Linked DNA regions of Homo sapiens: regions 1 and 3 are each linked to region 2. Evidence: fine-mapped expression QTL. A gene starts in region 2. Each other region holds a variant in brackets. All regions are shown on one strand. Distances are from middle to middle. Region 1 overlaps SLC26A8 (solute carrier family 26 member 8). Region 2 holds the start of SRPK1 (SRSF protein kinase 1). Region 3 overlaps SRPK1 (SRSF protein kinase 1).

What was found. PIP is the estimated chance that this variant, and not a neighbour inherited with it, causes the effect.
Region 1: its variant is the best candidate, but not a certain one, in a credible set for the expression of SRPK1 in whole blood (TOPMed, PIP 0.65).
Region 3: its variant is the best candidate, but not a certain one, in a credible set for the expression of SRPK1 in whole blood (TOPMed, PIP 0.65).

What each region holds. Positions count from the first base shown.
Region 1 is chr6:36,017,241-36,020,092 of GRCh38, reverse strand. SLC26A8 (solute carrier family 26 member 8) reads left to right here. Exons shown (of 20, transcript NM_052961.4): 2 at 384-573. The coding sequence starts at 386. Among named protein-coding and RNA genes, the nearest start is that of SLC26A8, 6.0 kb to the left of the region's middle. The variant C/T (reference allele first, on the strand shown) is at 1,282.
Region 2 is chr6:35,919,623-35,922,122 of GRCh38, reverse strand. SRPK1 (SRSF protein kinase 1) reads left to right here and starts at 1,025. Exons shown (of 16, transcript NM_003137.5): 1 at 1,025-1,079; 2 at 1,595-1,655. The coding sequence starts at 1,067. RefSeq lists silencers at 683-742, 773-1,362.
Region 3 is chr6:35,844,314-35,847,165 of GRCh38, reverse strand. The region is part of intron 13 of SRPK1 (SRSF protein kinase 1); the gene reads left to right. Among named protein-coding and RNA genes, the nearest start is that of LHFPL5, 40 kb to the right of the region's middle. The variant C/T (reference allele first, on the strand shown) is at 1,455.

The sequences.
Region 1 (2,852 bases), 98 kb before region 2:
TTCTTCATATATGCTGGATAGTGAGCATTTTCAGTGAAAATTGTTGATTAATACTGTCCACCTCTTGATCATTTTCCTACAACATAACACAACTGAATATAAAGAAAACTAGGCCTCCCAGCAGGACACCTGGGTTCTAGTCCTGGCTCTAATAAGTATCAAACAGCAAAGACTGTTTAAACTTCTGGGTTTTGTTGTCTCCATTTGAAAAATGAAAAGAATACACATAAAATTATACAACTTTGAGAAAGAGTTTTTTACAACTGAAAGATGCTATGCAAGTGTAAAACATTATTATATAGGAATTTTATTTCCTTAAAAATATGCCGAGGATCTGGATTACTGAAAATGCTCTTTTATTTGCTCTCTTTCCACTCATCCAGGAATGGCACAACTAGAGAGGAGCGCCATCTCTGGCTTCAGCTCTAAGTCCAGGCGAAACTCATTCGCATATGATGTTAAGCGTGAAGTATACAATGAGGAGACCTTTCAACAGGAACACAAAAGGAAGGCCTCCTCTTCTGGGAACATGAACATCAACATCACCACCTTCAGACACCACGTCCAGTGCCGGTGCGTGTGTCCAATCTTTCACCTGCTGCCGAGCCGGGCAGGACTGAAACCTAACCTGACTCCTTTGGGGTCCGTTTCTCTTTCTTGTCTGAGTTCCTGTAATCAGAATCATGCAGTTTATTGTGCAATTTTTCTTCAGTCATTTTTGTGGTTTGTCTTGCAGTACCTTTTCGATTGTAAACTTCCTGGGCATAAAGATCTTGGATGTCCCTATGGTACCTAAGGAGGATATTTCATAATTCCATTGTTCAATCAACCATGACTACCAGACTCCCGACCAAAAATAAGATAGCCAGCAAGACGCAATGGCTCACGCCCGTAATCCCAGCACTTCAGGAGGCCAAGGCAGGCAGATCACTTGAGTCCAGGAATTTGAGACCAACCTGGGCAACATGGTGAAACCCCGTCTCTACTAAAAATACAAAAATTAGCTGGGCGTGGTGGCACGTGCTGTAATTCCAGCTGCTCAAGAGGCTGAGGCATGAGAATTGCTTGAACCTGGGAGGCGGAGGTTGTAGTGGGTCGAGATTGTGCCACTACACTCTAGCCTGGGCAACAGAGCAAGTCTCTGTCTCAAAAAAAATAAATAAATAAGATAGCCATGGTGGACTGATTAATGGTAGGGGAATGAGATTCTTCTAGTCTCATATCCAACAGTGCCCACATGGTGGTACTCATGGTCACTAAGGTAGAATCTACCACCACCAC[C/T]TCTGATACCCGCTGTGACTAGCTAGGTCCTACAGTTCAGGGGCTCTTACCCTGTTTTTGTGCTTTGAACCTTCTAGCAGTCTGATAAAGTTAATCAACATCTTTCAGAATAATTTTTTAAATGTTTTTTATTGTGGTGAAATATGTATAACATAAAATTGGCTATTTTGACCATTTTTAAATATACAATTCAGTGGCATGATTGACATTCGCAATGTTGTGAAACCATCACCGCTATTTCCAAAACTTTTTCATCACCTCAAACAGAAATTCTGTTAAGCAATAATTCCCTATTTCCCCACCCCTCAGCCCAAGTAACCTCTCTTCTGCTTTCTGTCTCTATGAATTTGCCTATTCTAGCTATTTCACTTAAGTAGAATCATACAATATGTTTGTCTTTTTGTGTCTGACTTCTTTCACTTAGCATAATGTTTTCAAGATTCATCCATATTGTAGCATGTATTAGAACTTCATTTCATTTTATGGCTGAATAATATTCCATTGTATTTATATACCACATTTTTGTTTATCCATTCGTTAACAGACATTTGAGTTGTTTCTACCGCCATTAGGCTACTGTAAATAATGCTGCCATGAACATTGGCACAGGAGATCTGTTTGAAGTCCTATAACTAGGACTAGAATTGTTGAATCACATCATAAATCTGTGGTAAATTTAACTTTTTAAGGAACTGCCAAACTGTTTTCCACAGTAGCTGCACCACTTTACATTTTCACTGGCAATGTACAATTTTTCCATGTGCTCTCCAACATTTGTTATTTTCCATTTTTTTAAATTATAGCCAACCTATTAGGTATGAAATGATATCTCATCGTGGTTTTTTGTTTTTGCTTTTGTTCTGCATTTTCCTGATGACTAAAGGTGATGAGTATCTTTTGGTGTGTTTATTGGTTAATTGTATATCTTCTTTGGAGAAATGTCTATTCATTTCCTTTGTCCTTTGTAAAATTAGGTTGTTTGTCTTTTTGTTGTTGAGTTATAGGAGTTCTTCATGTATTCTGGATATTAAATTTCTATCAGATAGATGTTTGTAAATCTTATATAATTTTGTAAATATTTTCTCCCATTCTGCAGGTTGTCTTTTCACTCTGTTGATACAGTGTCCTTTGATGTAGAAAAGTTTTTTGGTGTTTTGTTTTGTTTTGTTTTGTTTTGTTGAGACGGAATTTCACTCTTGTTGCCCAGGCTGGAGTGCGATGGCATGATCTCTGCTCACTGCAGCCCCTGCCTCCCAGGTTCGAGCAATTCTCCTGCCTCAGCCTCCTGAGTAGTGGGGACTACAGGCAGGTGCCACCACGCCCAGCTAATTTTTGTATTTTTAATAGAGGTGGGGTTTCACCATGTTGGCCAGGCTGGTTTTGAACTCCTGACCTCAGGTGATCCACCTGCCTCGGCCTCCCAAAGTGCTGGGATTACAGACGTGAGCCACCGCACCTGATGTAGAAGAGTTTTTAATTTTGATGAAATCCAATTTATCTGTATTTTCTTTTGTTGCCTGGACTTTTGGTGCCATATTTAAGAAACTTGTCAAATTCAAGATCATACAAGA
Region 2 (2,500 bases):
TATGACGTGAAAATTATATGAAATTCAAATTTCAGTGTCCATACATAAATCTTTATAGGAACACAGCCCATATTTTCTATGACTGCTTTTGAGCTCCAATGGCAGAGTTGAGTAGCTGAGAAAGAGATCTTATGGTCCACAAAGCCTAAATATTTACTGTACGGCCCAAAGAAAAACTTTGCTGAGCCTGCTATACAATAAGGGCTTCATGATTAAATAACTGGGTCGTACACCAAGATTCTGAACATATAGGCAGGCCCTCTTAAGTTTAGTGTCTTTGTGTAATGGAAGTAATAACTATTTTGCCTTTAAGTTGCCATAAACATCAAATGAGATAATGCACTTAGAAAATAAAAACAAAAAAAACTTATAAACAAGACAGCTTTATCATGTATTGAAGGTGGTAGAATAAGAAAACATTAAACGTTTTTATTCTCATTTCCCCTTCTTTCCTTTACAGCTTTCACTTAAACTTGAAATTTCAAGAGAAAATTCACTTTTGAAGTTTTTACTTTTCAAGTGATAATAGGGTCACAGGTTCTTTCCTTCCAGTCTTTTTGTGTTGCTCCCACTCCCTTTTCTTTCTCACATGTAATTTTTTTCCATTTTCTTTAAATAGTATCTCAACTGGGCTCACAATAGCTCAGGGAAGGAGAAACTGGGACATGCCTGATTAATCCATTTTACAGGCCAGGAAACTGAGGCAGATCCCAGTTGCCTCCGAAGCTCTGACTCAGCAGCATGCAGAGAGCCCTGCCGCTCTCTGCGCCTTTTCTAAACAAATAGAACAAAACTAACCTTGCCAGGTTTCCAAGCTTGGATCTCTAACACTCCTTCAACGTTCACCCCGGCGTTCCTCCCCGCTGCGCCCCCTCCCTCTCCTTGCCGCCCCCTCCTCGGGAGCAGGTGGTAGGCTCCGCGCCCAACGCGCAAGCGCGCGGCATCGTGGGGCGGGGGTGGGGCGGGACTGAGGGCGGAGTGTGAGCGGGCTCGGTTTTGGGCCGCGGCGGGAGCGGGAGTCGCCGCCACTCGAGTGCGCAGGCGCCTGGCGATTACCGGTCTCACCATGGAGCGGAAAGGTGAGCGGTGGAGCGGCCTCCGCCACGAGGGGCAATGGTCGCCGGGGCGAGGCCCGGGTCAGCGCCGGGAGCTTCGCTTAACTGCCGCGGTTCGGTTCCCGGACGTGCGGCGCCCCTCCACTGAGGTGGCGCCGCCCCACACCCCCTGCCTCTGGGCTGCGGGTCCGCGCCCCTCAGTCCGGGCGTCCTCTGGCGCCGGCCGTAGCCGCCCCTTGTTCCCCGCCAGGCCGGCTCGCGCCTTGGGGCCACTCCAGGGCCCGGCCCTTGGCGGGCGACGCAGACCCCCACCCGCCCGCCCCCTGACCCGGCCTGAGACCCCTCCGGCGCATCCCGCCCGGGCGCTGCTCTGCGCCCCGTGGGCCGCCAGCCCCACGGCCGGCCGCCTCGCCGGAGCCCGCAGCCGCCCCCGAGGCAGGCCCCGCAGCCGGGCCTGGCGCCCCTGCTGGGTCTCCACCCTCACCTTGGTCGCCTCCTTTCCTCCACATTCGCCCTTCATCCATCCCTCTCTCCTGCAGTGCTTGCGCTCCAGGCCCGAAAGAAAAGGACCAAGGCCAAGAAGGACAAAGCCCAAAGGAAGTGAGTCTTGTACCCCAACATCCCATTCTTTGGATTTTCCTCCGGCACCTTCTCTGCTCTGGTTTCACGTCTTGAACGTGCACCGGGTTTGGGCACCCTGTGGCTGCAGCCACATGGCCTCGGGGCAGCTCGGAGGGTCGCTCTCCAGCAACCATGTGGAAGAGAGCTGCTGTTGCTCAACGCCAGGCCTGGGTCTTAGCAGCCCCGGGCCTGCTGGAAAGGGCTGTCGGAGGAGGACCAGAGCCCGCCCGGTACCTTTCCTCCCCAACTCCACAGAGGAGGCACAAACTCCCCTAGCTTGGACCTCCCCACCGGAGCTGGTAGATCATTATCGGTCTGTTTCTGAACTCTGGTCTCTCTTACCTGCTCCCCAACGTCTTAACTTGCCTCCGACGTCTTCACGGTAGGCCTTAAGGAAATTCTTGAATGAATTTTTCCGTGTTTACTTTGGGTTCTACCAACCACACACTCCCTTTCATAGAGGAGGGCATGGGGCTTTTCCCTGGGTTAGTCAACTTCCTGAGCCTGTAAGGCGTATCGGCTTTTTTGCAGTGTGCCGGCAGACCGCTGTGTATACAGTCGGTGTCTGTTAACTGCTTCTCTTCTGTCTAAACCTCAACCAGATGCAGATAATCTTCCGGAGTGGACATCACAATAGTAACGGGAGAGTTCTTTAACAAACATTGATGATTCTGGTTTGGCGTATTAAGCGCCACATGTCCAGTTTTATCAGTAGGATGCATAACAGTAGTTTAGTGCTATCGTGGCAAGTTCAAAAGTTGGTCACAGCCTAGTAGAAACTCAGGTAGCAGGCTTAGCAGCAAGTGAGGCTAAGCCTTAAGAAC
Region 3 (2,852 bases), 75 kb after region 2:
GCTGCCTTTTAATTGCTCTAGTAAGGACTGCCAATACTACAATACTATGTTGAATAGAAGTGGGGAGAGTCTTGTTCTGGATTTTAGAGGAAAAGCTTTCAATTTTTCACCATTGAGTACAATGTTAGCTGTGGCCTTCTTAAATATGGCCTTTATTGTGTTGAGGTACATTCCTTCTATACCTAATTGTGTGAGCATTTTTATCATGAAAGGATGCTGAATTTTGTCACATGCATTTTCTCCATCTAATAAGATGATCATATGGTTTTTGTCTTTTTTTGGCAGTAGCAGGGGCAGTTTGAGACAGATTGCTGTTACTTCTTCGTTATATGTTTGGTAGAATTCAGCAGTGAAGCCATCAGGTCCTGGGCTTTTCTTTGATGGGAGACTTCTTATTACAGATCTAATCTCTTGTTTCTATTTCTTCATGGTTCAATCTTTGTAGGTTATATTGTCAAGGAATTTTTCCATTTTTTTCTGGGTTATCCAATCTGTTGCCATATGATTGTGCATAGTAGTCTCTTATCCTTTGTAGTTCTGTGGTATTCATTATAATGTCTCCTCTTTCATTTCTTCATTTCTGATTTTTTTAGTCTTTTTTTTTTTTTTGGAGACACAGTCTCACTCTGTCATGCAGGACGCAGGTTGGAGTGCAGTAGTACAATCTCGGCTCACCCTCCTGAGTAGCTGGGACCACAGGCATGTGCCACCATGCCTAGCTAATTTTTTTGTATTTTTGGTAGAGACGGGATTCACCATGTTGCCCAGGCTGGTCTCGAACTCCTGAGCATGAGTGATCCACCTGCCTCAGCCTCCCAAAGTGCTGGGATTACAGGCATGAGCCACTGCGCCTGGCCTATATTCAAATTTTTATACAACATATCTTTAGATTTTTTTTTTTTCTTAAGAGATGGGATCTCACTGTATTTCCCAGGCTGGTCTTGAACTCCTGGGCTCAAGCAATCCTCCCGTCTTGGCCTCCCAAAGTGCTGGGACTACAGGTGTAAGCCACCCTACCTGGCCTCTTTAGAAATTTTTTATCTTTCTAAACTGAAACTCTATATACCATTGAAGAAAAACTCCGTGTTTCCCTTTTCCCCTATTCTTTGGCAACCTTTTAAATTTAAAACAGACTTTATTGTTCCAGCCTCCAGCCCTGCTCTGGAATTTTACTTCCCTTTGGTATGGATTGTTGAAGACAGGAAATTTGAATCATCTGTTAATTCCTTTTTTCTAAAATAACATTTCCAGCACTTCAGCCTTTCTTAATGTGGTCAAACCTGGGGTCAAGATAAGGGCCCTTAAGTTAATACATTGAGCACACCTGCATCTCTGCAGAAGGCCAAGCATCAGGACTCTGACTTGTCTTCCTCACTTTGAGACAGCCATTGGCCAGCCCATTGATACAGATGATGGACATGTTACTTTATAGAAACAGCTCTTACCTGAAACTC[C/T]TCATTTTCTGTTTGGTAATCACTCCTTGGCATTCTGACCACACACAACCATATTGCTTATGAAATGCTAGATTGCCCCTCAAGCTGTGTCAGTATTCCTTTCTGCTACCTGGAGTTTGCAATTTACTTCTGGATCTGAATGTAATTAGTCTGTTTAAATTGTCATTGTTTTAACTTTTCCATGCATTTCATGCTATCTTCTAAGCCATTCTTCTCAAAGGCAATAGTCTAGAGAAGGTTAACAAAGGATGGTACACTGGTTTTATTTGGGTTTGTTTCTTAATAGACTTTATTTTTTAGAGCAGTTTTAGGTTCACAGAAAAATTGAACAAAAAGTACAAATAAGTTTTATATGCTCCCCACACACAGAGCCTCCCCAACTGTCGATCTGCTGCTCCAGAGTGATACATTTGTTACAAACAATGAACCTACATTGGCACATCATTATTAACCAAAGTCAGTAGTTTACATTTCATTTCACTCTTTTAGAAGTTTTGACAAATGTATCTATCATTATTATATACAATATCGTTTCACTGCTCTAAAACTCCTCTGTGCTCTGCCTATTCATCCCTCCCGTCCCCCACTCGCTGGCAACCACTGATATTTTTATTGTCTCCATAATGTCAAATAGTTGGAATCATACAGTATGTAGCCTTTTTAGATTAGGTTCTTTCACTTAGTAATATGCATTTAAGGTTCCTCCATATCTTCACGGCTTAATAGCTCATTTCTTTTTAGCACTGAAGAGTATTTCATTTTCTAGCCTCCTGAATAGCTGGGACCACAGGCGTATAGCACTGCCGCGGCTGGCTCTGTGTTTTTTGTTTTTTGTTTTTTTTAACTTTAATTTCAGTATTTTTACTGAACTCTATATATGAGACCATGAGATTTTTTTTTAAAGTACTGGTATCAGGAATGATTGACAAGTTTTGGTGAACAAGAATCATGATTTGTTTCTCTGTTGCTTTGGGACTATAAACCTCGGAACAACTCAGGGTAGAACAAGTATCTGCTCTATCACTGTGGTTCAGTTTCTTAATAAACAACTGAAATGTAAAATAAGCAATGCCAAGCAAGAAGCCATAGCACTGCTGACATTTAGAGATAGTATTTGATTCCTAAACCTATCCTGAAACTTCTGGTTTTGTGGTCTCCCTCTGGACGGTAGTACAGTTTTGAGAAAGGCTGTTCTGTCATGAAACTGCAGAAACTGACACTGGTGAGCCACCAGGACCTAAACTTGGGTCTAAATTGAGAATATGCCCCAACTAAGTCCTGGACTCTACAGTTCTTGAGGTTGTTTGGACTGCTTAGTACCATTGATTTAATCAAAATTGACCTATGACTAGCGCTTATTTTATAACTGTGCTTCCCTATCAATAAGGTCATTTTTTA